3 linked regions of the Homo sapiens genome follow. The protein of the gene in region 2 interacts with the protein of the main gene of each other region in a pairwise test. Each region holds a gene or a part of one and is shown on either strand. Other genes may lie near its edges.

What was found. Proteins that work in one complex are often made in the same cells at the same time.
Region 1: the proteins of SORT1 (region 2) and FAM3C interact in binary tests that used the Homo sapiens proteins (3 or more experiments, as listed by UniProt).
Region 3: the proteins of SORT1 (region 2) and CNIH3 interact in binary tests that used the Homo sapiens proteins (3 or more experiments, as listed by UniProt).

What each region holds. Positions count from the first base shown.
Region 1 is NC_000007.14:121,357,622-121,365,418, forward strand, and holds part of FAM3C (protein FAM3C precursor), read right to left. Parts: intron 6,568-7,797; coding exon 6,509-6,567; intron 5,327-6,508; coding exon 5,276-5,326; intron 2,507-5,275; coding exon 2,422-2,506; intron 1-2,421. UniProt on the Homo sapiens protein: May be involved in retinal laminar formation. Promotes epithelial to mesenchymal transition.
Region 2 is NC_000001.11:109,324,156-109,332,445, forward strand, and holds part of SORT1 (sortilin isoform 1 preproprotein), read right to left. Parts: intron 3,447-8,290; coding exon 3,344-3,446; intron 3,006-3,343; coding exon 2,837-3,005; intron 935-2,836; coding exon 744-934; intron 1-743.
Region 3 is NC_000001.11:224,724,207-224,732,003, reverse strand, and holds part of CNIH3 (protein cornichon homolog 3), read right to left. Parts: intron 6,081-7,797; exon of another isoform or gene 4,139-6,080; intron 1,707-4,138; exon of another isoform or gene 1,543-1,706; coding exon 1,430-1,542; exon of another isoform or gene 1,412-1,429; intron 1-1,411. UniProt on the Homo sapiens protein: Regulates the trafficking and gating properties of AMPA-selective glutamate receptors (AMPARs).

The DNA.
Region 1 (7,797 bases), on a different chromosome or scaffold from region 2:
ATAAATTCGTGTGCCCCAAACTAATACAACTCAATTCATTTAAATTCACAGATGAATCATATATTGACCAAGTGACCAAACGTAAAGAAATTAAAGTTTAGATTTTTCCTTTTGCCCTAGAGGTTGAACTCTCTTCCAAAGCTGCTTTTGGTGCATTTAATGGGCACCAAAAAATAGCAGTTGAAGAGTAAACATCATTCCTCCCCTAGTTCTTAGTTGTGGCTATAATTTATTATTAGCATATTAGCAGGTTAAGGGGAGCAATTTTGATTCCCATCAGGTATAACAAAATAATCTGGTGAAAAACGGAGGTCATGTTTGTCAAGTCAGAAAAGTGGGGCCTTTTCTTTTTAATGTTAAAACTTCAAATTTTACACGTAATAGCCTATTCTCTCAGCAAAAGCAAATAGCAAGTTACCTGTTTTTTGATGAGAGCCTAATTACATCCTGTTTCATTCTATTTAGGTAGATGAAAATGCTTGAATAGGCGAGTTTTATGTTAACCTTCAATTTATGGATTTAATATATTCTTAGTTGAACCAGATAAAACGCACAATGTCAATGAAATTACTTCAGCTTACAACCATTTATAAAGTATCACTGTTTTCATGTAAATCTGTGATAATGTAGCTATAAAATAATACATTTATAAAAATCAATACATAAAAATACAAATTTCTGTATAAATCTTGTAGTATTAAGGCTCTGTCAATTAAAATCTATAAAATCTATAAATCTTGTAGTATTAAAGCTCTGTCAATTAAAATCTATAAAGGATGTTTTTTATCCTTGATAAGTCATCTGAAGAAAAGTCAGAGAAAAAATTATTTTTTTCTAGAAAGAAGAACATTAAAGGGGATTTAATCTCAACCAGAGAGGCATGAAGTACAATTACTTTTATAAAACAATTTTAAAATAATTGAAATAGTGTCTTTTTGGAACAGAGATAAACAGGTCAAGTGAATGGAACAGAACAGAAATTCCAGAGATAAAGCCAAATCTACATAAGAACATAGGCATTGTGTGTCATGGGGAAATTACAAATGGGTTTTTAAAAATACATGACAACAGTGAAATCACTGGAAGAGAAAATCTACTAAATATCTAACCTGGAGGTGGAAAAATACTTCTCAAGTATACAAGGAGAGTGATAGAAAAATACATAGACTATATAGGCATTAGTCTAAAATTCTAAAATTCAAAAAGCACCCTACACTAACAAAATTAAAAGCAAATAATGTACAATAAATACATTTCTTTTTACATTAGAAATGGTTAATATCCTTAAAACGTGAAGGGGTCTTACAAGTCAAGATAGGCCAACTCGAATGGTCAAAAGACAATTTACATAAAAAGGCAAAAGAAAAAAAAACCACTTGTGAAAAAAATCCAATCTCAATAATAAAGGCATATTAAAATAAGATACCTTTTCAAACTCTTAAAATTGAAACTTAAAAAAATTAACAATTGGTGCCATGGAACTTCTGAGAAAAATATAAAATTGGTAAAAAAATTTTTAAAATCCATTTTTAAAAACATGCACATCCTTTAATTAATCATTTCCACTTTAAAAAAAAGAAGTCTATCTTAAAGACATAGACATGGACTGTTCAAACATTTCTAAGATAGTCTATTGTGCTAAGTATGCAAATTGGAACTAGTCTGGGTCCAGCAATAGGCAACCCATTAAACAGGTTATAAATCATGACATTTTAAAAACCAGACTAGGCAGGCATAAACAATTTTTTATAAAGAATATTTAATAATAAGGGGAAATATTCACCACGTAAGTGAAGAGATATGCTATAAATACTAGCATTCTAAATATTTAATGCCAAAAAATGTGTCTTAAGTCATCTGGAATAGAAACTAAAATATCATCAATGTTTACACTGGGTAGTGAGATGGACTGGAACTTGGTCTCTTTGCGCTTTTCTATAATTTTCCAAATTTTTACAACATATACTATTTTAAGAAAAAGTTATAAAACTACTATATATTAAAATTATTTAAAATATAGCACACCTGTATCTTTGACAATTAACTCCATTTCTTGAAATTTACCCTAATGACATAATAATAGGGAAACTTTAAAGGTGAGCCCATAACTGCTGATGAACCATAAAAATGCTATTGAAGAATATTAATGCTAGGAAAAACAATTTCAGAATGTTAAAAAACAAAACATAAAAGTATAAAAAATGTTACATATGATGTGATTCTAATTTCATGACAATATATGTGTGATAAACATTTACATATAAAACCAGGAAGGAGGCAAAGTAAAAACAAAAATTGTTAGTTGTGTTTACCTGGTAGTTTGATTACTTTGCTCTATGTTACAGATTTTTTTTTAATGAAAATGTATTGCTTTTATAATTACAAATTATAGTTCCAAAAAGTTCTGTAAAGTTTACATACTTGGTTGCTCCATCATCGTATGTTCCCATTAAAACTATTGTTCCATCTTGTATGGCCTTCAGAAACTCAATAAATGGTGCCACATCTGAAGAAAAAGAAAGGGTTTAGGGTTTTAAAAAATGACTGAATAAGCATCACGATAATCTCTGAAAGTAGTATTATAAAACATGAAGTATCTGTAAAGCAATAATTTCCAATGTAAAGTAATCCAAAAGACAGACAAATCTCATAAAGAGTTTAAAAACTGTTAAATTTGTCCCTTAACATAATCCCACTATCAACTTACAATTTCCCATTCCTGATTTATCCTGTGTCTTTCGTATTGATATTCCTGGGGCTAAGTGAAAAAAATCATAGCAAAGTAAAGCATGACTTACGAAGTAAGAAATTCAGAGATCTCTCAGATTTGAATAATTGGGATCCTGAAAACCTTATTCTGGGGTCCATGCATAAGCTTAAGGAGGCATGGGAGGTGTGTGGACTCCTTAAGTGTATGTAAAATTGTATGGGCTGAGCACAGTGACTCACATCTGTAATCCCAGCACCTTGGGAGGTCAGGGCTGGGGGATGGCTTGAGCCCAGGAGCTTGAAACCAGCCTGGGCAATATAGTGAGACCTCATCTCAACAAAAAAATTTAAAAATTAGCCGAGCTTGGTGGCACATGCCTGTAGTCCTAGCTACTCAGGAAGTTGAGGCAGGAGAACTGCTTTGAGGCCAGGAGGTGGAGGTTGCGGTGAGCTGAGATCACACCACTGCACTCTAGCCTGGTTGACACAGCAAGACCCTGTCTCAAAAACAAAACAAAAAAACAAAAACGAAACGAAAAAAAGCATAACAATGTTTGTATGGGTACTTTACTAGAAAGAGGATACACAGCTTTTCTCCGATTCTCAAAGATATCTGTAATTTTTAGAAAATCTAAAAATACATATACACACAGATTTAAAGGCTATTTTAGGTATATCATTTGCTATAAACTGGGAGAAGGAATATGTTAGGTGATCACTAAAAGCCAAACTAATTGTAGCAAATATTACAGTCATTACTCATTTGATCTACCAAATCAAAATCCACAAGGACTTCAAAATAAACCACTTCAATGACTATAAACTGTTGATGCCAGATACATAGGTCAGATTCTAAAAACCACTTGACATCTTGAACTCTTTACAATGTCTGGGTTCCTTATAGCTCTGAAGTCTAATTCTACTCCAAAACTGGGTTACTTCAAATGTACTCAGTTTCTTTCCACAGCAAAGATGCCAAAGATTTTCGATAACTGATTATATTTCATAATAATAGCATTTTCAATTCAAAAAGATATAACAAGGCAGCTAACAAACTACTTCCATTTAAATGCAAAAGTGGCAATAAACTGCAACAATTTCCTAACTAGAAGAATGCTGCTAGCGGTAATTAATCTACCTGTGACAAGAGAAGTAAGGAATACCAGAGCTCCTGGTCACATGACTGATTTCAACAACAGCTTTGTAAGACTCTTTCTATCAATAAATTTTGGCAGGACCAATTTATGCCTTTAGAATCTAAAATTGATGGTCCCATTTTAAGTTTATACAGCTTTGACAGCTATGCAATGTTGTCCTAACATTATTTAATAACAAAATAATACACGGCATCTTTTGTTTTTTTGAGACGGAGTCTGGCTCTGTCGCCCAGGCTGGAGTGCAGTGGCAAGATCTCGGCTCACCGCAACTTCTGCCTCCCCGGTTCAAGGGATTCTCCTGCTTCGGCCTCCCAAGGAGTAGCTGGAACTAAAGGTGCATGCCACCATGCCCGGCTAATTTTTGTATTTTTAGTAGAGACGGGGTTTCGCTGTGTTAGCCAGGATGGTCTCCATCTCCTGACGTCGTGATCTGCCTGCCTCGGCCTCCCGAAGTGCTGGGATTACAGGCGTGAGCCACCACGTCCGGCTACATACCATCTTATTACAAGCTGAAGATATGTTGGAAAAGCTAAATTATCTGAGAACTCTTAACATGAATTTCAGGAAGCCTAATAGCTGTTGGCTTCTAGGGAATATATAAATGGAATGGGGAGGTGCAGGGGAGATCCTCATACTGATCAATCTCCCAAATTAAAGAATCAAAAGATAAACCAGTGTTGGCCTCCCTTCAAACTGGAGGAAAAAAACCCATTCTTCCGGGCAGCGTTCTTCTTTGGGGTGCCAGTCCCTTGCCTCTGCGTGCTGGTAACTTCTTCCCACTCCTTGTGGGACTTCCAAATATGGAAGGGGAAAATATCTGTGGATTGCTTTACAAGAAAGAAAATTCTATTTCTTCCCTCAAATATTCATCTACCTAAAAAATTAGCTGCAAGTCAGAGGGTAGAACTGTGATGAATAATAGGACTGCTGTTCTAAAACTGATAGTTTATCTTGTCTTTCTAATGCTCCTAATGCTCCTAATGATTTATTTTTGAGACTAAAAAATCACATTTAAAAAAAAATCAATTCCTATCACTTAGGAATGCTTACATTGGTTATTCTGGTCTTCAAATTACTTTTTTTTTTTAAATTTTAGACACACTTAAAGGAGCCCAAAACTTTTGAATTGGTTGTCCTGTAGAAAACAAGATGACTTTTTTTAAAAAAATCTCAATTTTGATATTACTATCTTCAATTATACACCACAAAAATTTTTTTCTAAGAAGAAGAAAGTATATAAAACATGAATGATAACTTAAATACAGCTGGACATTTAGTGAACAGAAAGTAAGGGAAACAAAATGAACTAACGCAAATAGCATCATCATTCTCTCATTAATGGGCTACATTGTATTGAGGTGATTAAGTCAGTGCCAGCAAAAGAACACAGTCATGTTATTTATGCTTACCTCCTCCCCACATGTCAAAATATTTAGTGTCTAATACTTCTCCTGTTTTTCCTAAAAGAGATTAAATTCATATCAAATTATGCATCTGAAATATATCATACACTGTAAGACCAATAATCTCATCCAATGATTGATGTGAATTCATTAGCAGAGAAGATGTGAATTCATTAGCATTAGAGAGATGTGAATTCATCTCAAAGAATTACTTTGAGAACTTAAAATCTGAATCATATGCACCTGAAATATATTTTTAAAGGGTAATTTCTTAATAGAACTTTCTCATTAATCTTTTAAGCCGAAGGATAAATAGAAGTTCATTACTGACTGTAGACCATTCCAATTCGGTTAGATATATTTCATCGTTGTTTCCATATTCTCTTATTTTAAAATTACTCAAAAGTAAACCTTTTACAAAAAAGAAGTATCTCCTTGAATCAGATGCCATTTTCTACATTAAATCAGTTTTTACAATAAAACTTACATTAACTTGCCCTATAAAATGTATTTTTTGCTATTAATGAAATAGACAGATGTTGAACCTTTTACCTAAGGAAATGAAGAAAGCAGAAGAACAAAAATTTACCTCTTGCTGTGAAAGTAGTAAAATATATTTTTCTACACTATGAAACTACAGTGGTTTCTAACCATCCTATATATCTTATAACCATCCTACATAGCTTTATGGAATACTTATTGTACCAGAACAGAGAGGATCAATATGCAGTTAGGCCTCACTTTATGGTTTTATGTTTTCAGATTTGATTTTGAAGGAAAATTTGAGATGTTCAGGATTCAATCAACTTATTCATACTAATTAAGCTATCAGAAGAATGTGGCTGATAATGAAAAATTACAATACATTCTTATTCTTTGTTCCTCCCCCTACACCATCCTTTGTCATTTCATACGCCTTTAATCCTGTCAACCTATCTTCCTATTATGTTAGGATTCCAAAATTTGAAGCAAGATTTTATCAATGTGATGTTAGACTGCTTGGTTTCTGACAATCTCATGGAAGCTCTTGCATAGCAAGTTAGGATACTTTCAAGAAACACGCTATAAATTCTTAGACACCAAGTCTCCACCCATAGATTTTTTGCAGGGCAGGGATGGGACAGAGGGCTTTATCATCAAGAGCAGTACTTTCTAACCTGATCCTCTGATAGTGCATTTTACTTTGGGACAGAAAAATACCCAATGATTACATCCATAAGCTAAAATAATTGTTCTTACCATTTGCCAAGGCAACATTGATCCCTCTTCCAACATTATTCTTAACACCACTCATTAAACTGAAGGGGGAGAAATTGAAATAAATTTAGAATTAAATATTGTACAATAACATATCAGAAAAATAAAGTCTTGCAAAAAAAGTTAGGAATATTATACATATTTTCAATTGTTCAGTGCTGCGGAGGAAATTAAAAAGATCTCTACTAAGTCAGAGAAGACAGTCTAATACTGAATAATTTTAAAGCAATGTCCTTAAATAATATTTCACAAATAGAAATACATATTAAAAAATATTAGGCCTGAAATAATAGACCATTTTTGTGCTACACTGCTTCAGATTATTCTTAAAACATGGACATTAAGCATATGTTCTGCATCATTCTTAAGGTATCAAACAAAAGATAATCTCTTTTCTGCTCTCTTCAATACCAGCGTGACATGAAACAGAAGCGAGATACTACCCCCATCATTTAAATCTAAAAGCAAACAGAGTGGGGGAGCACTCTTTCATGAATGTTTTACCTAATTGTGAACATTCTCCTAGTGATTATCACTGTAAAGTTCGTCTACACTAAGAAATATTGCACTCATGAAATCACTGCATTGAATGACAGTCACTTACGTGGTGACTACCTGAAATAATCGACTTCCATGGGCAGCTCACAGACCACTATATAAAGACAATGACACTGTAAAATGGAAGGTACCAGTGACAAATTTGCTGGTTATCAGTTCAGTTTGTTCAATTGCTCAAATTAGAATTATTAAACTAAAATTGTGAGTTCTTTTAACTCAAAACTTCAAGGTAATAGTAATACTCCCAGTGGTGTGCTGTTAACTATTTAACAACTGCTCTGTGTTTAGGAGAGAGAGGCAATATGCACATATGTGACTACACGTGCACACACTTGTCCTTATATAGACAGAATTATATATACACATAGGTACACAATTTATTATAAACTACTAAAAGATGTATAGCACACAATTTCATAAATAAAATCTACGATGTACTTTATTATAAATCTCAGTCGATTCTCACAGAGTATTTTAGTTGATTTTTCAAACAATTCACATCTGCAGCTGAACTATGGTTGCAATTGATGAATGAGCTCAGTTCTAACAAACGTTGGATCTATGTTAATAAGATAAAATAAAGAAAAACAAATAATGGAGATTCATGTTCAAATTCCACTTGCCTGTCAATGATGACTGAATCAGATAATAAGTTTTAAATATTGGAAGACTACTTCCTACATTTTTGGTGCTATCCACCATATAATAGATAT
Region 2 (8,290 bases):
CTTGCTCTTGTCGCCCAGGCTGGAGTGCAATGGCATGATCTTGGCTCATTGCAACCTCTTCCTCTCGGGTTCAAATGATTCTCCTGCCTCAGCCTCCCAACTAGCTGGGACCCGCCACCTTACAGGCACCCGCCACCTTACCTGGCTAATTTTTCTATTTTTAGTAGAGATGGAGTTTCGCCCTGTTGGCCAGGCTGGTTTCGAACTCCTGACCTCGTGATCTGCCTATCTTGGCCTCTCAAAGTGCTAGGATTACAGGCATGAGCCACCGCGCCTGGCCATTCCCCTTATTTCTTAGCATAATGCCAGCATCTTTGTTTGGCAGTGAGGTTAGGGTTTGCTTGTGACACTTTGGAAACACTGTGCAATGAACATTGTGAATCCTTTTCTGAACCTATTTTCTGGGCCGTTAATATTGCTTAATGTTGAAATGATAATATTTTGGATATATTAAGTTTATTTTATTAATATCACCTTTCTTTTTACTTTTATAATATAGCTGACAGAATAATTTAAATGACATATGTGGCCCTCATATTTCTCCTGGACAGTGCTAGCACCGAGGAGGAGGTTGTTTTTCTGATGCCATTCCATTACTTAATCACCCACACAGAACATCTGTCAATCCTCTTTCATATGCATATGCATCTGCTGATTCCAGCTAAAAGAAATTAAACCATATTGATTATTTAGGAAAATGGACTTGGAAGTTTCTGGTAGAAAAGGTCAAAGGAGACACTCACAGTTCCTTTCAAGGATATCTTTAAAATCAATGGTGTAGGAGACCCACTGGCTGGTCAGGAAAGATTCTGTGAAGCCCCAAATGCTGATATTCATGGACCTAGCTCCAGGTTCTGAAGCTAGGCCAGTGAAATAGATGGGGTCCCTGGTGAACGTGTAGGTTTGCCAGCATTGACCTTCGTCTGTGGAGAACCTGAAACCACAATTACAGAAAGATCATGACAGAGGATCAATGTGTACTGGGAATTCAGAAAACCACTCTGGCTTTTTGATCCCAAACCAGACAAAACCCCTTACATTTAGGTGGTGGCTTATTGGCTGACAATTATTTTAACTTTTTTTTTTTTTTTTTTTTTTTCTGAGATGGAGTCTCACTCTGTCACCGGGCTGGAGTGCAGTGGCGCGATCTCGACTCACTGCAACCTCTGCCTCCTGGGTTCAAGTGATTCTCTCTCATGCCTCAGCCTCCTGAGTAGCTGGGATTACAGGAACGTGCCACCACACCAGCTAATTTTTGTATTTTTAGTAGAAATGGAGTTTCACATGTTGGGCAGGCTGGTCTTGAACTCCTGACCTCAGGTAATCTTCCCACCTTGGCCTCCCAAAGTGCTGGGATTATAGGCGTGAGCCACCGCACCCAGCCAACTATTTTAACTTTTAACGTCTGTAGTTAACAGGATAAGGAAGAGATTTGTTCAGAGAGAATATGAAAGTAAATACCTTTACAGAAATTATTTCAAAGGAAAGACAGGAGAGTGACCCAGGTAAGAACTGGCTTTTAAATTAATAAATTTAAGGCTGGCTGTGGTGGCTCACGCCTGTAATCCCAGAATTTTGGGAGGCTGAGGCAGGTGAATCACCTGAGGTTAGGAGTTCGAGACCAGCCTGACCAACACAACAAAACCCCGTCTCTACCAAAACACAAAAAACAAAGCAAAACAAAAAACCACAAAAATTAGCTGGGTGTGGTGGTGCATGCCTGTAATCTCAGCTGCTCAGGTGACTGAGACGCAAGAATCATTTGAACCTGGGAGGCAGAGGTTGCAGTGAGCCAAGATTGCACCATTGCACTCCAGCCTGGGTGACAAGAGCAAAACTCCATCTCAATAAATAAATAAATAAATAACAATCAAATTATTTTATAAGAACTTATACTTCTTTTTTTTTTTTTTTTGAGACGGGATCTCACTCTGTCACCCAGGCTGGAGTGCAGTGGTACGATCTCAGCTCACTGTGGCCTTGACCTCCTCAGGTGATCCTCCCACCTCGGCCTCCCAAGTAGCTGGAACCAAAGGCGTGCACCACCACGCCCAGCTAATTTTTCTTTTTTTTTTTTTGTGGAGACAGGGTTTTGTCACATTGCCCAGGCTGGTCTTGAACTCTTGGGCTCAAGCAATCCACCCACCTTGGCCTCTCAAAGTGCTGGGATTACAGGTGTGTGCCTCTGCACCCAGCTCAGAACTTGTACTTAAGAAGTCATTTTCAATCTAGAGTGCTTGAACGCTTCCATAATAATTTTGTAGACAGAAAGAATATATATATATATATATATATATATATATATATATACATACACACACACACACACATATATATACACACATATATACACACATACACATATATATACACATATATATACATATATATACACATATATATACACACACACACATACATATATACACACACACATATATATATATATGGTTTTTTTTTTGATTGAAATAATATTAGAGACAAGGGACAAGGTCTCCCTATGTTGCCCAGGCTGGTCTTGAACTCCTGGCCTCAAGCGATCCTCCTGCTTTGGCCTCCCAAAATGCTGGGATTACAGGCATGAGCCACTGCGCCCAACCCAGAAAGAATGTTTTTAAGAAGTGACAAATATGTTAGCTAAAGGCAGTCAGAAGAAAAAACAATGCCATTTAATCTGAGTTGCCAATTAAAAGCAATCCTTTCTAGAATCTTATCTATAGTTCTGTCAAATGCAAAAATTTGAATTATAGTCTGTAACATCCCCCCAATAAACTGAAGAACATTCCCCCAGTTGCCCTCTATGCAGACAGTGTGTGTGAGATGAGTTCATGCATACTTAATCACATTGATAGGACGGCTGCTGTGCTCAATGGCCACAATGATGCCTCCAGAATCCAGGATGGTGTAATAGTGGGGTCCTTCCAGCATCTTTGTCCAGGAGTAACCCCCATCATCTGAGATGTACACATCTGGAACCATCACTGAGATGGCATCCCCCACGCTACCTGCAATATAATCCACCATCTCATTAGCACAAATAGGCAATGAAACAGAGAGCATTTACTCCAGAGAGAATAATGTTGAATGAATTTATTCTGATTATTTCCCATCAAGCCTCTTTTAGTAGGAAAGAAAACCACCAAAAACTTCGGAGAAGTTGTGTTGCTCTCTCTGATAAAAGTTGATGAAAAACCCAAAGTGTTGTTATAATGTAAGAAATTCTACCAAAGGAATGTAAAAGCATCCACATTGTTTCTTCTCAGAGCGTTCAAAGCCTGTTGGCTGAGTTTCAGTGTGCTCAGCCACTGTTCCAGTTGGAGGTGGTGAGTGGGAGGTTCCTTACCATGAGCAATGACAATGCCTACGGCATTCGGCTCTGAGAGTGGGGCCATTGGAACATTCAGTTTCTGGGAGATGCTGTAGGAAGCATGAATATGAAGGCTGCACTGTGAAAAGAAACAAAAGCGTAGATTAGAACCAAAGATAAAGATACAATTTCTTTAATCATTTCACAAAACCCTTCCAATAAAGCTTTAAGTTAACCCAGACCTAGGTAAAAGTACTATCTTAACTATTTATTTACTATTTAGGTGTATAGTTCAGTAGTGTTAAGTATATTCACATTGTTGTACAACCACATCTCTAAACTTTTTCATCTTATAAAATACAATCACCAATTAAGCAACTGTTACCTACTTCTTCCTCCTCCCAGCTCCTGGAAACTACCATTTTACTTTGTGTTTTCTATGATTTTTACCATATTACTTTGTGTTGGCTACTCTAGGTAGCTCATATAAGTAGAATCACATAATATTTGTCATTTTGTGTCTGACTTATTTCACTTGGCATAATGTCCTCAAGGCTCATCCATGTTGTATTAATAGCATATGTCAGAATTTCCTCCCTTTTAAAGGCTAAATATTATTTAAGTGTGTGTGTGTATCTGTATCCACACACACCCCACACTTTATTTACTCATTTATCTGTCAATAGACACAAGTTGCTTCTACCTTTTGGCTATCATGAATAATGTTGCTATGTACATGGTTGTACAAATATCTTTTTGAGAACCTGCTTTCAACTCTTTTGGATGTATAATCCAGAAGTGGAATTGCTGGATATGATAATCCTATTTTTAATTTTTTTTAGGAACTACTATGCTGTTTTCTGTAGCAGCTGCACCATTTTACATTTTCACCAAAAGTGCACCAGGGCTCCAATTTCTCCATATCCTTGCCAACACTTTTTAAAATAGTAGCCACCCTAATCTGTGTGAGGAGATACCTCATTGTGGTTTTGACTTGCATTTTCCTAATGATTAGTGATGCTGAGCCTCTTTTTATATGCTTGTTAGTCACTTCTATATTGTGTTTGGAGAAATGTCTATACAAGTTCTTTGCCTATTTTTTATTCAGGCTATTTGTTTGTTGTTGAGTTGTAGCTCAGTGGCATACTCTTGATTCTGAAATGTACTACAATATCTGGAAGCAAATATTTCCTCATGGGTAACCTGTCTCCGTTTATTTTATTTTTGCATTACATCAAAGCCTCTGAACAATGTTTAAAGGCTGACTCTACACAAATAAACTTGATAAGCACCTGATATACTTCAGACACCGTACAAGATGTGATGGTGGTTCGAAATAAGATCCAGTCTTGTCTTTAAGAAACTTAAAGGCTCCAGGTCCACTCTCACAGACCCAGCCAAGTGGACCCCTGCATCAGGCCAGCCCCTGCAGGCTCAGGGTAGGGCCCACCCCTGCACCAGGCTGGCTCCTGCAGATCTACTTACCGGGCTCCAGGTGTTTCACCTGAAGACCCACTTAAAAGGTCCACCCTAGTGGATTCCACTGCCAGGCCTGCCGCAGAGGACCCAGCCTCCAAGCTACCCCCAAAGACCAAGGCACCAGGCCCACCTACCTGCAGAACCTGTCAGTTGCCCCCCCAAGAATCTCTGGATGAGCTACCTGGTAAGGGCTTCCCCTGCTGAAGCCATCTGTAAAGGCCTATGTGTGTAAGAGGACACATAGGCTAAAAGTAGAGATAAAAAAAAGATATTCCACTCAAATGGTAGCCAAAAGAGAGCAGGGGTGGCTATATTTATTTATTTATTTTTGAGACGGAGTGTCGCTCTGCCACCCAGGCTGGAGTGCGGTGGTGCCATCTCAGCTCACTGCAAGCTCTGCCTCCTGGGTTCATGCCATTCTCCTGCCTCAGCCTCCCAAGTAGCTGGGACTACAGGCGCCTGCCACCACACCCGGCTAATTTTTTGTATTTTTAGTAGAGACAGGGTTTCACCATGTTAGTGAGGACGGTCTTGATTTCCTGACCTCGTGATCCGCCCGCCTTGGTCTCCCAAAGAGCTGGGATTACAGGCGTGAGCCACCATGTCCAGCCGGGGGTGGCTATATTTATATCAGACAAAATAGACTTTAAGTAAAAAACTATCACAAGGGATAAAGAAAGTTACCACACAATGATAAAGGTGTCAATTCATCAAGAGCATATAACATTGGTAAATATAAATGCACTCAACATTAGAGCACCTAAATGTATAAAGCAAACATTAACAGAACTGAAGAAAGAGGTAGACGACAATACAATAATAGTAAGGGACTTCAATACTTACTTTCAATGATAGATCATCCAGACAGAAAACCAGTAAGGAAAGAGCAAACTTGAACAACACCATACAAATGGACCTAACAGACATATACAGAACATTCTATCCAATAGCAGCAGAATATACATTCTTTTCAAGTGCACAGAGAATATTCTCCAGGATAGTGCATATGTTAGGCCACAAAACAAGCCTTAACAAATGTAAGACTGAAATCACCTCAAGTATCCTTTCTTTTTTTTTTGAGACGGAGTCTCACTCTGTCACCTGGGCTGGAGTGCAGTGGCGTGATCTTGGCTCACTGCAAGCTCCGCCTCCCGGGTTCAAACAATTCTCTGCCTCAGCCTCCTGAGTAGCTGGGATTAAAGGCACCCGCTGCCACGCCCAGCTATTTTTTTTTTGTATTTTTAGTAGAGACCAAGTCGGCCAGGCTGGTCTTGAACTCCTGACCTCGTGATCCACCCACCTCAGCCTCCCAAAGTGCAAGGATTATAGGCGTGAGCCAGTGTGCCTGGCCTCAAGTTCTTTTCAACTACAACATTATGAAACTAGAATCAGTAAAGGGAGGAAAATTGGAAAATTCACATGAATGTGGAAATTGAACAACATATTCTTGAACAACCAATGAGTCAAAGGGAAATAAAAAAAACTTGAGACAAATGAAAAGGGAAACACAACATATTAAAACTTAAGGGATGCAGCAAAAGCAGTTCTAAGAAGAAAGTTTATGGTGATAAATGTCTACATTAAGAAAAAAGAAAAATCTCAAAAATCTTAACTTTATACCTCAAGGAACTAGAAAAAGAACAAACTAAGCCCAAAGTTAGCAGAAGGGAGGAAATAATAACAGAGCAGAAATAACTGAAATAGAAGTTAGAAAAATAACAGGAAAGATCAATGAAACTTAGAGTTGTTTTTTTTGACAAGATAAAAAAGTGACAAACTTTTAATTAGAATAAGAAAAAAAGAAAAGACTCAAGTAAAATCAGAAATGTAAGAGGAGACATTATAACTTATACTACAGAAAAAACAAAGGATCCTAAGAGACTACTATGAACAACTATACATCAACAAATTGGATAATCTAGAAAAAAATGGATGAATTTCTAGACATATACAGCTTACCAAGACTGTATCATGAAGAAGAAATAGAAAATCTGAACATACTAATATGAGTAAGGAGGCTCAATCAGTAATCAAAAACCTCCCAACAAGAAAAGCCTAGGACCTGATGGATTCAATGGTGAATTCTAGCAAACTTTCTTCAAAGAAGAATTAAGACCGATCCTTCTCAAACTCTTCCAAAAATTGAAGAGAATGGAACACTTCCAAACTCATTTTATAAGGGTGGTATTACCCTGCTACCAAAACCAGACAAGGACACTAGAAGAAAACAAAATTACAGGTCAATATCTCTGATGAACATAGATGCAAAAATTCTCAACAAAATACTAACAAACTGAATTCAACAGCATATTAAACAGATTATATACCATGATCAAGTAGGATCTATCTGTGGAATGCAAGGATGGTTCAACATATGCAAATCAATAAATGAGATATGCCACATTAATAGAATGAAGGATAGAAATCATATCATCTTGATAAATCCAGAAAAAGCACTTAACAAATTTCAACACCCATTCATGATAAAAACTCTCAATAAATTAGGTATAAAAGGGATATACCTCAACATAATAAACCCATTCATGATAAAAACTCTCAATAAATTAGGTATAAAAGGGATATACCTCAACATAATAAAGGCTATATGTGACAAGCCCACAGCTAACATCATACTCAAACAGTCAAAAGCTAAACCTTTTCCTCTAAGATCAGGAATAAGACAAAGATGCCCATTCTCACCACTTCTGTTCATTATAGTAATGGAAGTCCTAGCTGGAGCAATTAAGTAAGAAAAAGAAATAAAAACAAAAAGCATCCAAACCAGAAAGAAAGAGGTAAAATTGTCTGTCTGCAGGTGACATGAGCTTATATATAAAAATCCTTAATCTTTAAAGACTCCACCAAAAATGTTAAAACTAATAAATTCAAAAAAGTTGCAGAATATAAAATCAACATATAAAAATACAATATACACTAACAACAAACTATCCAAAAAAGAAATCAAGAAAATTTCATCTACAATAGTACAAGAAAAAAACTTAAAAAAAAAAAACAAAAAAAACTTAGGGATAAATTTAACCAAGGAGGTGAAAGACTAAAAACTACAAAACATTGATGAAAGAAATTGAAGATGACAAAAAAAAAAAAAAGGAAATATATCCTATGTTCCTGGATTGGAATAATTAATATTGTTAAAATGTCCATACTACCCAAAGTGATCTACAGATTAAATGTAATGCCTATTATTTTGACTGTCTTTTTTTACTATTATATGGTTATAAATAACCCTCTTTCTGTGACAACACAGAACAATCCAAACACGTTAATTCATCAGATGTTTACTGAGTACCTGCTATATTTCAGGCACTGTTTTAGGTACTTAAGGTACATCAAGAACAAAACAACCAGTTGTGGTGGCTCACATCTGTAATCCCAGCTGAGAGGCTGAGGTGGTAGGATCACTTGAGGCCAGGAGTTCAAGACTAGCTTGGGCAACATGGTGAAACCCCATCTCTACCAAAAAGTACCAAAATTAGACAGGTG
Region 3 (7,797 bases), about 120 Mb from region 2:
CATTACCTAGAGAATAAATTAATTCCACCTTCCCCATCAAATCATTTCAGGCCCTCCATACCATACTCTCAGCTGCCTGCCAACCCTGTCTCTTCTTATTTCCCTCCAAGAACCCTACATCCAACCTCACTGAGCAACTACTGTTTCCCAAACACAACAAGTGTTCTCTTAACTCTGGGCCTTTGCACATGCTGGGCCCTCGCCCTGGAATGTGCTTTTCCAATGTCACTCTTGAGTCTAATTTAAGTGCTTCTTTCTCTATGCTCCTACCAGTATTCCTCATATGTCTGTTAAGAACATATTTCCCTCCACCACTAGGATGTACGTTCCTTAAGGGTAAAGGTTTTGCTTTACACTTAACGTGAAATCCCTCACAATGCCTGGCGTGTACTATGTATCCCGTATGTTTTCTAAATGAAGGAGTGCATGTCTTAGGTGTGGCTAAATTCAAGCCAGATTTTATGGTACAATAAAAATGATAAAACACTTTGGGGTCCAATGCTCTGGCAGCAAAGGGTCAAGGGCAGGCAACTTATCTGCGCAAATACCTTCTCTACTATTTAGATATTCCCCCACCTCTGCCTCCTGTGTCCATATGGTGACTCTATTTTACAAAAAGCCAAAAATCACATGATCTGACACATGGTCTTAGCAGGGAATAGAATCTATGAAATTATAACTGTCCCAGAAAATCCAGCCCATCTGGTAGGTGCTTTTTTTTTTATTAAGATATAATTTACATACCATAAAAGTCACCCTTTTAAAGTGTACAACTGTACAATTCAGTGGTTTTTAGTATATTCATAGAGTTGTGCAACCATCATGACTATCTAATTTCAGAACATTTTCATCACCCTAAAAAGAAAACCTTTGACCCATTAGCAGTCATTCCCTATTCTCATTCCCTCCCAGCCCCTGGCAGCCATGAATTTACTTTCTGTCTATAGATTTGCCTTTCCTGGACATTTCCTATAAATAGAATCATGAAATATGTGGCCTTTTGTGTCTGGCTTTTTTCACTGATACTTTCTTTAGGGCTTCATGTTGTAGCATGTATCAGTACTTCATTTCTTTTTATTGACAAATAGTATTCCATTGTATGGATATACCATATTTTGTTTCTCCATTTATCAGCTGATGGGCATTTGGGTTGGTTCCACTCTTTGGCTGTTGTGAATGCAACTATAGATGCTTTTAACACTGACCTACAAGGGATGGGGTTGTGGTTAATGAAACCAACAAAAAGGGCCTTTCCTTATTGGACTTGTTGCCTAAGAGCAGTTTGGGAACAGGCTTTAAAGAGAGAGACCCAGAAAGGAAGGGATGATTGGAAGGCAATAGAAGCTGTCTATTTGGGTGACATCATCACTGGAGAGCAGGCTGCCCTGGCAGAAAAGACGAAGGATATACCAGTCCCAGTCTGACTTACCTCCAGAAGTGATAGAAAAGTAGAGGGACATTCAGCCCCAGCGTGAGCCACTCTTGCGCACACAGGAACATAATGCAGAAGAGGCTATGGATGGAGTATTCTGGCAGCACCAGCTGAAGAGGGAGCAGAGACACGGCCCTGAGTTAGAGGAGGAAAACGCCACTCCTGCTTCTATGGCAGCTGACTTCTGCCTGGACACTGCCTCTCACAGACGGTTGACACAAAGGCCCTCCCTGCAGCAACGTAGAGCCACTGCCCCAACACAGATCCATTTCTGGTAAGTTCTTCTTTTTATGGCACTCCTCTTTTTATTATACCCAAACCCAAATGACACAAGCCCTCAGTGCACTGCTTACTATTAACAGAATACCACGCTTGCTCCTAGGGGTCACCCATGGATGGCCACTGGGAAGACTGGAAGAGCTGGTCCAGCCCATGTGTCATCTGACCCAAGGCAGGACCACTAGGAGAAATACTGCAAGGGTTTCTAATGAATCCATAACTGCCCTGCTCTTGTTTTTCTGGCCCCTGTGTATCCTCCTATAGTAACTCACAAACCTAAAGTGAATATGTACATTTATCACAAATATAGGAGGGTCAGGAAAAAATGGCCAGCCTCAGAAGGCAGTGGCATTTTGCCTGATGGTGGATGGAGCAAGAGGAACGCGAGAAAAACAACAATTAGCAATGATGAAGAGGGACAGTGTAGCCTCTGGGGGAAGAGGGAAGAAACTGATCCTGACCAAGAAAGGCCTGATGGTGGGAAGTGTGACCAGCAGGAAGACTAAGCTCTCCCACCTCCAATCCAGCCACACAGGTATAAATGGGTAAAAGGAGCTTAAAATCATTGAAAAGCTGCTCCCAAGGGTAACTTCATTTTATCAGAAATCAAAGTTGTAAGCTAAAGGGTAACTGTAAGGAAGAAATTTGGCACCTAGACCAGCAGTAGGGAAGGCTACAGATATAAATGCACCATTTTACCCAGTTATATAGGGAGATATAGATACATATTACTAAATATATTTATTTATATAATATATAAATATACTTTGTATTGTTTAGGCTCTCATGAATACTTTGTTCTTCCCATCAAAATCTTTTGAAACATCCTTCAAGGCCCATCTCAAATGCCACTTACCTTTTTTTTTTTTTTTTTTTTTTTGGAGACATAGTCTTACTCTGTTGCCCAGGCTGGAGTACAGTGGCGTGATCTTGGCTCACTCTAACCTCTGCCTCCTGGGTTCAAGCAATTCTCCTGCCTCAGCCTCCCAAGTAGCTGGCATTACAGGCGCCTGCTACCACGCCCAGCTAATTTTCATATTTTTCAGTAGAAAGGGGGTTTCACCATGTTGGCTAGATTGGTCTTGAACTCCTGACCTGAGGTGATCTGCCCACCTCGGCCTCCCAAAGTGCTGCGATTACAGGTACGAGCCACCGTCCCCAGCCTCAAATGACACTTTCTATTGGGAGCTCTGCCTACCGTCCCTTGTTCCTCCACCCTCCCCTGTACCTCTGGGCCCCACAGCATGTTTTCTGACCCCCTCCCAGGGGTACTTTCCATAATCTATCCATTGTGGAGTCATCATCCTCTTCCCACCTTCCAATACAGATAGATTCCTCTGTCCAGCATTCTGCAAGCCATCTTAGCCAACGTCTATTCTTTTCTCATTTCCATTTGCAAAGCGCCTTTGTACAATGCATGGCAGTTAGGAGAGACTTAACAAATACGTGGTAAAGTGCATTGAAATGACCAAGTGCATATGTTTACAACATGGCTGGCTGGCATTAGATATGCAGCCTGTGGTTACAAACTAAGATTTCTTTGGGTGGAGAACAAACTCCCTCAAACCATCCCATTTGGGTATGGACCATGACTTTGGTCTCTCAATTTAGTTAGATGAGCTAACTACCCCAGATGGCAGACACAGAGGGAGAAACACATACGCACACATTAAAAATAAAGACATGCACAGCACACGTGTAAGACATTTTGTAACTATGGGGCACCTTCTTTATTCTCAAAGTCCAGTGTAGATGAATTGCATTAACCCTCACCTTAGACTTCTCAGGCAATCACCTGAGGAATCAGAGCAAAGGAGCCATCATTCCAGAGGTGGTGACCCTTGGTGGGTGAAGCAGGTACCACCAGCCCCTGTGAATCTCAACCACCTGGCAGGAGGGGGCACGCCATGTCCCTATTGTATCTCCTTATAGGACCTCAGAGCTGTGATAACCAATCCTATCTACCCCCAGCCAAGGCATCACCCTACCCCCTCCCATTCAAAGAGAAAGCCCACTTTCTCAGAGCTGGGTGCGCCAGCCCCGGGAGGCAGTGGCTGTGAGTTCTGCTATGCACATCTCTACATTTTCTAATCATCAGTTTCAGCCACTTAAGCTGAGGCAATTAACATGTTTAGAGACAGCCACCGTGGGCCTGAATCATCCATTATTTCTCCATCTCCATCTCCAATTCCAATGACAAATCTCTGACTGATTACAGTTTGGATTTCAGGTCCCACTCTTAATCACCACTGCTTCTTCTCTCTTTGGGGCTTGATTTATTGTGGAGGCTGCAACCTTCCAAGCAGGGAGGATTCATCACTGTCTCCACGTAGAGGAAAACTGCTTAATGCAGGCCAGCTAGTCACGGAGGTCTCCAGCCTTTTGGAGGTTGGGAAAAAAGCTGAAGAATTTATTCTGCCATTTCAGGTGGCTTCTCTAGATGACCTCTTATGCCTAGAACACTGAACAGGATCCTTACAAGTAGAAGAGGCTCCTCCAATTAATCCAGAGACTTTTAGGAGTGACAGTGACCTTTTGATACACACACTGATCCTTGCCTACTTCACCAGCTGCTTCTTGTCACAATGATGTGGAAGAGGTAAGGAACCTCTTCCTTCTAGACCAAATGGAAATCAGCCAGGCCATTTGCATGAGGCCTGCACCATAGCCATTATGGCTGCCTCCACTCACACCCAGCACTCAGCCTTCTGGAAGGTGGTAAGGTCTCATTTTCCAGCTCTCAGGGGTTGGGGCTGCTGATGGGCTGTGGGCAGAAGTGATGTGGAGAGAAGGCCAGACCACTTAACGGCTGATACAAAATTCTCCAGAGTCTCTTTTCCTTTTCCTCTGACAAAGCAAAAAGCATTTAGGATGGTGGGTACTCCATCATCCTGAAGCCACAAGTAAGGAAAGAGGCCCCCAGGCAACTCATGATGGACTAGAGTGTGAGCAGTAAAGAAACTTGTGTTGTTTTAAGCTGCCAAGAGTTGAGTGTTGTTGTTGTTGTTGTTGTTTTGCCATAGCATGATTTAACCTATCTCATATGATACCATCAGCAAGCCCCAGACTGAGTAATCAATGGGAAAAGCAAAGTTGTGCTCTTCACTGTTTATCCTCCCCCAACCATCCACTCAGCCCTTCCTTAACAAGCCATCGAGGCCGGCAGGACACAGCTCCCTGTCACCGGACATGCTCGGGCAGGGGCTGAATAACCACCAGGCAGGCATAATGCTCATTCATTTGTGTGGGCAGTCAGACCAGGCGTTCCCTCCCAACTCTGAGAGTGTCTGTTATATAAGGACCACCCCTAAAGCTTCTAAGCAAAATACAGAGATGCTGATGCAAGCGCTCACCACAGCCCCATGACCCTGAGTCATCCCTTAGCTTTGGAAAACACTTTTTTTTTTTTAATAAGAGAAGCTGTTGAATGGTGCCAATCTCATTCTTTCAACAAATGGAGAAACTATTTCATGCAAGCCACAGCCTATTGAATTGCCATGTATTATTACCCTGCTTTCTAGAGTCATAAATCCTAAATCTCAATATAAGTATTGTGGGATTACTGAAAGACTGCAATTCATTCCAACCAGGGGGATCATGGAAGGTTTGTGATCAAAGGGAAGTTGGAAAGGGCGAGTAAAACCTAATCACTTATGGGAACCAGAGGTCGGCATCCTAGAAGTGGAACAGTGAAAGCAAAAGCATAGAGAGATGGAAGTCACTGGTCTGGGGTGGCTCCTTAACAAGGCCACCTCAAAGGGCCCCTATTAAAGGACATTAATGATAACCGGTAAGGACTGTGTAAACGCTAACTGTATTCCACCTGTCCTGACTTCCTACCCAGATGCTAATAGTCAATTTTCATTTGCTGGCAAACATTTCCACCTGGATATCCCACAACCACTTTGTGCTGAAATTCACATTCCTATCAGTACCTGCAAACTTTATCTCCTAAATTTCCAACTTCTACTAACCATACCATCTCTGACTCCTTCTTCTCATCAGTCTCCATGTAAGTCTGTTTCCAAATCTTGCTTCTTCACAGCCACTTGCATTTGTTCCTTCCTTTTTATTTATCCTGCCCCTGGACCTCCTCTCCAGGCTGGTGCAAGAACCTTCTAGCAGGTTTCCATCCCTGCACACATGTGCCCTCCACCCAACAGAGCAGTATATGCCATGCTCAGCTCAGCTGTAAGCCATTGTCCACAATCTTGTTTTTCCAGGAATTTTACTTGTCTGCATTCTAAATATTTTATTTCTAGTTATGTATCCTCTCATTCATTCATGTATCCATTTGTTTGCTGTTTTATCCCATCAATGACCTGCAGCTGATTGGTACCCTTTATAGATTATGAAAACAATAGAATCGTGTGCCAAGTCCTGTCTTATTTTTACTACTGTGGTGGAGAGGGGCATCAGGGGTTGTGGGAGAGATTCTTCTTACCCCTAAAGGAAAAGAAGTAGGAAGGGGATGCTTGGAGTTGAAGCAAGGGAATAATGCTCCTGGTGGAGAAAAGGGATTCCTTAAGACCAGGGGAAGGGAGAAGATGAGGGAGATGAAGAGGCAGCAAGCGCCCCTGTTGTTGGAGATCCGTCTGCTCCTGGCTCTCATCATGCATTCCAAGGGCATAGGTTTTCTGAGGGGCTGGTGTCAGCATGCCTGGGACCAAACACTTTAAAAGTCACAGCTATGGAAGCCACAGGGAAGCTCCTGGCACTGAGTTTATCTTGAAGACAGTAGAAGCTGTGAGACTCAGAGTCTCTACCCATCTCTGAATGCCCCTGTCGACTCAGACAACAAGCTTTACAGCTGTAATCCCATAAGTCTCAATATATTAGCCCAGTGTCTCAAAGCATTATATAAATTCCTACAGTTACATAATACTCAACTGTGTGCTATTTAGAAAAGCAGCTACCCATGCTGAGTCTTATTTTACCCATCTGTAAAATGCCATACCTACCAGCCAGGGACACAGGATGTACTATGAATGACAGTGCTCTCAAAAGTGAAGAAGCCTCCAGCAAAAGAAGACACCACTATTGTTATTGTGTTGTGATCATTATTATCATTATTATTTTTTCTGAGATAGAGTCTTGCTCTGTCACCCAAGCTGGAGTGCAGTAGCACGATCTTGGCTCACTGCAACCTCCACCTCCCAGGTTCAAGTGATTCTCCTGCCTCAGCCTCCCGAGTAGCTGGTACTGCAGGCATGTGCCACCATGCCCGGCTAATTTTTGTATTTTTAGTAGAGATGGGGGTTTCACTATATTGACCAGGCTGATCTTGAACTCCTGACCTCGTGATCCACCTGCTTTGGCCTCCCAAAGTGCTGGGATTGCAGGCATGAGCCACCATGCCTGGCCGGTCATTATTATTTTTAATAATCATATACTAGATGATGACCATTCTCAGGTAGATAACTTGTTGCTCTTACCGTGAAAGTCAATGAAATGACCCAGAACCAGAGTTGGTTTCCTGATTTTTCAATTCAGTCTCCTGACTCCCTCTGATTGAACCAAGCTCCAGCTTCCTCAAGTGGGAAGAGAAACCAAGGGCTGTTTCAACAGCCTGCCTCTCAAATCATAAAAAACCTCAATCCTTGCCTGTTTTCAACAGCAATAATCCAGTTCTGTGTGTCTGCCCTAAGGTTTATTTGCCCCAGGAGCCAAAGAGTGTGGAGAAAAAGATACTATATCTTTTATTTGATTCCTCAGCCCATACTAAACTGGCCCTAAAACAGAGGATCCCTCTGGGATGCCCCGGACGAAGTCAGTATTCCCAGCATGGAGATCATTCTCCATTTGTTCCCAAATGAATAATCATGCACGTGAGCATCTCCAAGCAATGTCAGGAAACTACATTCTGGGCCCCTTTGCTCTCAGGAGGCCACATGCTCTTTAATCACTCTGGATGAAGGTCGTCTTTGGAAAGCCTGCACCAGCCTGGGCATCCAGGAGGGCTGCCCAGCCCCATAGGCCTTGCTGTGTCAGGGACTAGCAGCCAACCTCAAATGGCATGATACAGTAGGAACACTCCGCCAGCTGGGACTTGGGTTGGGTCGACTTGAGTGGTCCCTATTTGTTGG